Regions from separate parts of the Homo sapiens genome. Here region 2 is linked to region 1. Evidence: fine-mapped QTL for protein levels in blood plasma. Region 1 holds a variant in brackets. A gene starts in the other region. All regions are shown on their forward strands.

Region 1 (2,900 bases):
TGAACTAGGAGGTGGAGGTTGTGGTGAGCTGAGATTGTGTCATTGCACTCCAGCCTGGGCAACAAGAGTGAAACTCCATCTCAAAAAAAGAAAAGAAAAGAAAAGAAAAAGGAAAAGGAAAGAAACATGAAATGTGGCTTGACGGTGAAGGACAGGTTTATTTTAGAGAAAACCAACCTGAGGGGGGCTTTTGGCTGAGTTAGGTTAGAGAGCCCTTTTTTTTTTTTTTTTTTACAGACTAAGGATATTTAAGAGTTTTGGAAGGGGGTGCTTATCTAGGTTCGGAATGTTTTCATGTGAGGAAAAGTTTATTGTGGGGTTGGAAAGTCTCTGGTCGGAAGGGAGGCTATCTGGGGGTTGGCATGTTTCTGGTCAGAGAGGGGTTTATCTTAGGGTTGGAATGTTTCTGGTTATGCTGATGGTAGCCATTAGGCTGATGTTTTGGGGCTGGATTTAGCTGATTTTTTTTTGAGACAGAGTCTTGCTCTGTCACCCAGGCTGGAGTGCAGTGGTGCAATCTCGGCTCACTGCAAGCTCCACCTCCCGGATTGACGCCATTCTCCTGCCTCAGCCTCCCGAATAGCTGGGACTACAGGCACCCGCCACCACGTCCGGATTTAGCCGATTTTTAATCAAGAGGAACTAAGAATGGTGGTGTTTGTTCAAGATGGCAGTGCTCCTGCTCTGTCAGCATTTGGAGTCCAGAAATAGATGTGGAGGCAGCCCCCAGGAGGACTTCCAACCTAGGCAGGGGCCTCAAACATGACCCCTGATTCCAGGAGCCTGTGAAAAGGTGTCCCCCACCATTTATCCTCCCAAAGATAGACACTACAAAGAAGGGCATACCTGGCCTTGTCCACTGGTACAAAATCTTTATGTAAGTATAAAATAAATAATATGAATATTAATTAATAACAACAACACAACAGCGGCAACAATATTAATAATAACAAGAGCTCTCCCATTGGCCCACGGCCTTCCTCCAGCTTTTCTCTTCTGCTTCACACAACTTTGTGAGATAGCTGTTTTCATAGCTGGGAAAACTGAGGCCCAGAGAGGTCGGCACACTGGCCTGAGGTCACACAGCAAGTCTGTAGGGCTGGGAGCCGAGGGAAGGGCAAAGGGGTCCCCCGGATCCAGCCAGGGCAGAGAGGGGGATTTCAGGTTTAGGTCCAGAGGAGAGTGCCTCCCCACAGTCTGGCAGTCATTAGCAGGGTGATGGTGAGGCTGAGATGGGCAGGGCCAGGCTGAGGAGCAGCCCCACTGCGGTACTGGACATCCAGGTCTGGGTGGTTACAGCCACTTTTAGTACAGCAGGAGACATCAATGTGGTTCATGCTGAAGGCGTCACCCAGGTGGGCATGTTGGCACA[T/C]TGAGGCGGTTGCACAGCCTCTTACCATATAGCTTTGGTTTTTCGGTTCTGAGGAAAGAGAAGACGGAGTGAGACTTCCAGCTCCTGGGCCCAGGACTGGAATTCTCCAGTAGGTGACCTGCCACCTTGCAGTGGGTGCCACCTTCACTACCACCTAGAGAAAGCAGCAGTTCTCAGGGCCAGGTGTGGTGGCTCATGCCTGTAATCTCAACACCTTGGGAAGCCAAGGAGAGAGGATAGCTTGAGCCCAGGAGTTCCAGACCAGCCTGGACAACATAGCAAAACTCTGTTTCTACAAACATAAAAAAGAAAAAAACAGCTGTAGTCCCAGCTACTTGGGAGGCTGAGATGAGAGGATCACTTGAGCTCAGGAGATGGAGGCTGTGGTGAGTTATGATCACGCCACTGCACTCCAGCCTGGGTAACAGAGTGAGACCCTGTTTCAAAAAACAAATAAAAAGAAAGAAAGGAAGGAAGGGAGGGAGGGAGGGAGGGAAGAAGGAAGGGAGGAAGGGAAGAAGGGAAAGAAAAGAAAGAAAGAGAGAGAGAGGGAGGAAGGAAGGAAGGAGAAGGGAAAGAAGGAAGGAAGGGAGGAAGGAAGGAAGAAAGAAAGAAAGAAAGGGAAAGAGAGACAGAGAAAGAAAAGGAAAGAAAAAAAAAGAAAGAAAGGAAGCGAGCAGCGGTTCTTAAAGTGTGGCTCAGGGACCCCAGAGACCCTTTCAGGAGATCTGTGATTTCACATGGCTTTTTCACTCTCATAAGTGTACAATGGGCTTTTCCAAAAACTCCAGGACATGTGATATTGCAAGAGACTGAAAGCAGAAGCTTCCATGAGGACCCAGCTGTCTTCTATTAAGCTGGACATTAAAGAGATGTGCAACACAGCAAAATAATGCCAGTTTTCTCATTACGCTTTTTTTTTGTTTTTTTTTTTGAGATGGAGTCTCACTCTGTCACCCAGGCTGGAGTGCAGTGGCACGATCTCGGCTCACTGCAACCTCTGCCTCCCGGGTTCAAGCAATTCTTCTGCCTCAGCCTCCCAAGTAGCTGGGACTACAGGCGCGACCACCATGCCCAGCTAATTTTTGTATTTCTAGTAGAGACGGGGTTTCACCATATTGGCCAGGCTGGTCTCGAACTCCTGACCTTGTGATCTGCCCGCCTTGGCCTCCCAAAGTGCTGGTATTACAGGCGTGAGCCACCGCGCCTGGCTGGTTTTTTTTTTGTTGTTTCTTTGTTTGTTTTTTTAAGACAGGGTCTCGCTCTGTTGCCCAGGCCGCAGTGCAGTGGTGCAATCTCCGTTCACTGCAACCTCCACCTCCCAGGCTCAAGTGACCCTCCCACCTCAGCCTCCCAAGCAGCTGGGACTACAGGCATGCACCACCATGCCCAGCTAACTTTTGTATTTTCTGTAGAGACAGGATCTTGCTATGTTGCCCAGGCTGGTCTCAAATCCCTAGGCTTAAGTGACCCGCCCACCTTGGCCTCCCAAAGTATTGGGATTATAGGCATGAGCCACCATGCCTGG
Region 2 (2,900 bases), not on the chromosome of region 1:
ACAAAACTGACCACAGTCTTCTAGAGGAAGTAGCAAGGTTGGCTCTGAAGCCTATAGCATCGCTGACTCAGTCTGTCCCCTGGAAGGCTGGCAGCTCAGCAAGCACAGAAGTCTCTCCAGAAGACAGTGGGTCACCTGCCTCCCAAAAGCTGAAAGGCTAACTTGTACTTTCCCCAGCAGGCAGCTGGCACCCTGAGCCCTCGGCTGGGGCAGAGCAAAGGAGCCTTCCTCCTTCCTACCTTCCTGGCACTCTCCCTGCCTTCCTTCTGTCACTCTCAGGTGGACCCAGACCCAAGGTCCAGATTTGCAAGGCAGGAAAATGCTGCAGGCCTAGGCTGGGAAAGGGCCCAAAGCCGCTAGTGGATTGCTGGGACTCAGCCTCCTCCTTCCCACTAAGAGAGCGAGTCCTACTGGGTTCAAAATGACCCCAAGCCCTGGTTCCTGACACTAGGGGAAAGAGATGGGGGTGACAGAATCACAGAATCCCTGCTATGTTCCTCCAAGTGTGCCCAGAGATGCGTGTGTGTGTGTGTGTGTATACACAAATGTCTGCTTATCCTCAGGCAGGAAGGGTGGATGCAGTCATTTACACATGGTCTGTTTTTCTGGAGGACAATTTTATTTGATAAACAATTGTTTCTATCTGAATAGAATAAACAAGGCTCTATGATGAAGTAAAACACTAAATACACATGCATTAAAAAATGCATAATTATCTTTTTGGAATGGGCTATACAGAGATGTGCTTTTTAAAATGTTAAGAGTGTAAAAGGACAAACAGTGAAAAATAAATCTTCCTCTTATTTTGTCCTCCAGTCTCCCAATTCCTCTACTCAGAGGTGAGAACAGAACTTCCACACCCTCCAGAACCTCCACAGTTAGAACTGTCTACATGTTTCCATTGTCTTTACTTTTATTCTTGCCTGCACAAATAAATGAATTGCTCATTATGGAAACTTCCCAAAAGACCCGTTAACACTTCAATAGGAAGCACCAACAGTTTATGCCCTAGGACTTTGTTCCCACAATCCTGTAACATCATATCACGACACCTAACCCAATCCTTATCAAGCCCTGTCAAAAACGGACTTTAAACCAAGCTGCAAATTTTCAGTAATCTGGCCTTGCCTTTCCCCCTCTGATAGCACCATCAAACAAACCCCCTTACTGCCGAAAGCAATAAGCCCGGCTTTGTTCCATCCACTGGTTGTGTTGGTGATATCTGGGGACTGCCACTGAACAGACGCACAGAGGGAGCCCCTACAGGCAGGGGTTTTTCTGTCTGTGCTTCTGGGAGAGTATGTCTCGTACATTTGTCGCGTTGATGAAGACTTCACAGCTCCATCAGCTGCGGGCAAGGGGGTCTGAGGCAGTCTTAGGCAAGTTGGGGCCCAGCGGGGAGAAGTTGCAGAAGAACTGATTAGAGGACCCCAGGAGGCTTCAGAGCTGGGCGAGGTAGAGAGTCTCCTGTGCGCCTTCTCTCCTCTCTGCAATTCGGGGACTCCTTGCACTGGGGCAGGCCCCCGGCCAGGTGCATGGGAGGAAGCACGGAGAATTTACAAGCCTCTCGATTCCTCAGTCCAGACGCTGTTGGGTCCCCTCCGCTGGAGATCGCGCTTCCCCCAAATCTTTGTGAGCGTTGCGGAAGCACGCGGGGTCCGGGTCGCTGAGCGCTGCAAGACAGGGGAGGGAGCCGGGCGGGAGAGGGAGGGGCGGCGCCGGGGCGGGCCCTGATATAGAGCAGGCGCCGCGGGTCGCAGCACAGTGCGGAGACCGCAGCCCCGGAGCCCGGGCCAGGGTCCACCTGTCCCCGCAGCGCCGGCTCGCGCCCTCCTGCCGCAGCCACCGGTGAGTGCCGCGGTCCTGAGATCCCCGGGCCGGATGCGCGGCGGCCCCAGCTCCCGAGCGTCTGCCTCCCCCGCCCTGGGCTGCCCGGGCTCCCTGGGCTCCCCGGCGGCTGCACGGAGTCAAGGCGCCCCGTCCCGGGCGTCCCCCGCGGGTGCCGATCCAGGCTGCCCGGAGTCCGGAGCCCAGAGAGGAGAGAGACAGCTGGGGAGCCTGGTCACCGCGGGCATCTCCCCTGCGCTGCAGTCGCCCGCCTGGCCTGCCTTCCCGTTCCTCCGCCTCTTGCCCTGACTTCTCCTTCCTTTGCAGAGCCGCCGTCTAGCGCCCCGACCTCGCCACCATGAGAGCCCTGCTGGCGCGCCTGCTTCTCTGCGTCCTGGTCGTGAGCGACTCCAAAGTGAGTGCGCTCTTGCTTTGACTGATGCTGCCCAAGGACCTCTGATCAGCACCAGGGGAGAGGAGGGGCTGCTCAGGGAGCTGGGGTCCTCCGGATTCCATCCACAGCAGGGCCAGACTCTCCCCAGGAAATGGGACAGGGTGGCAGCGGAGGCTTGAGAACCACGGGGGTTGGCACTGGCTGGCAAGGGAGGAAGAGGCCGCCGGGACTGCCCCAGCCTGCGGGCATCTGGTAGATGAAGCTTGCTTGGGTCAATCCATTTCTCCTGGCTGGAAACCCATGGTCTTCCATTTGAGAACTAGATACGAACAGGGTGAGGCGAGAGGGAGAGGGAAGAGTGGGTTTTGGGATTGGGGCCAGTTTACCCTCACCCTGGAGTCCCTGGAGCATGGGACCTTTGATGAAGCCTCCTCCCGAATCTCTTCCAGGGCAGCAATGAACTTCATCAAGTTCCATGTGAGTATCCACCCCTACAACAGTTGGCTGCACAGACAAGTTGGGAAGGCTTCAGGGGACATCCCCTCCCTGCCCTCTGCTGCAGGGCTGCGCCACCCCTTACCACTTCCACTCCCCCTCGCTTACCCCACCTTTGTTCTCTCCAGCGAACTGTGACTGTCTAAATGGAGGAACATGTGTGTCCAACAAGTACTTCTCCAAC

Direction of the effects. Alleles are on the strand shown, and positions count from the first base shown. The strength of an association depends on the size of the effect and on how common the allele is.
For the plasma level of the protein whose gene starts at base 1,762 in region 2, allele T in region 1 goes with a lower level than allele C (moderate association).

The links. PIP is the posterior inclusion probability: the model's chance that the variant is causal. Protein levels are from antibody-based Olink assays in UK Biobank. Linkage for the fine-mapping came from a reference panel and not from the study's own genotypes, which makes the PIPs less certain.
Region 2: it holds the start of PLAU, and the variant in region 1 is fine-mapped to the plasma level of the PLAU protein (UK Biobank, PIP above 0.99).

What each region holds. Positions count from the first base shown.
Region 1 is chr19:43,647,724-43,650,623 of GRCh38, forward strand. It overlaps PLAUR (plasminogen activator, urokinase receptor), which reads right to left. Exons shown (of 7, transcript NM_002659.4): 7 at 856-1,420. The coding sequence ends at 1,167. Among named protein-coding and RNA genes, the nearest start is that of CADM4, 9.3 kb to the left of the region's middle. The variant T/C (reference allele first, on the strand shown) is at 1,373.
Region 2 is chr10:73,909,371-73,912,270 of GRCh38, forward strand. It overlaps PLAU (plasminogen activator, urokinase), which reads left to right and starts at 1,762. Exons shown (of 11, transcript NM_002658.6): 1 at 1,762-1,848; 2 at 2,155-2,242; 3 at 2,671-2,698; 4 at 2,845-2,900. The coding sequence starts at 2,186. It overlaps C10orf55 (chromosome 10 putative open reading frame 55), which reads right to left. Exons shown (of 5, transcript NR_160938.1): 4 at 2,830-2,900; 5 at 599-2,725. RefSeq lists enhancers at 1-437, 1-743, 1-42 and a silencer at 1,709-2,308.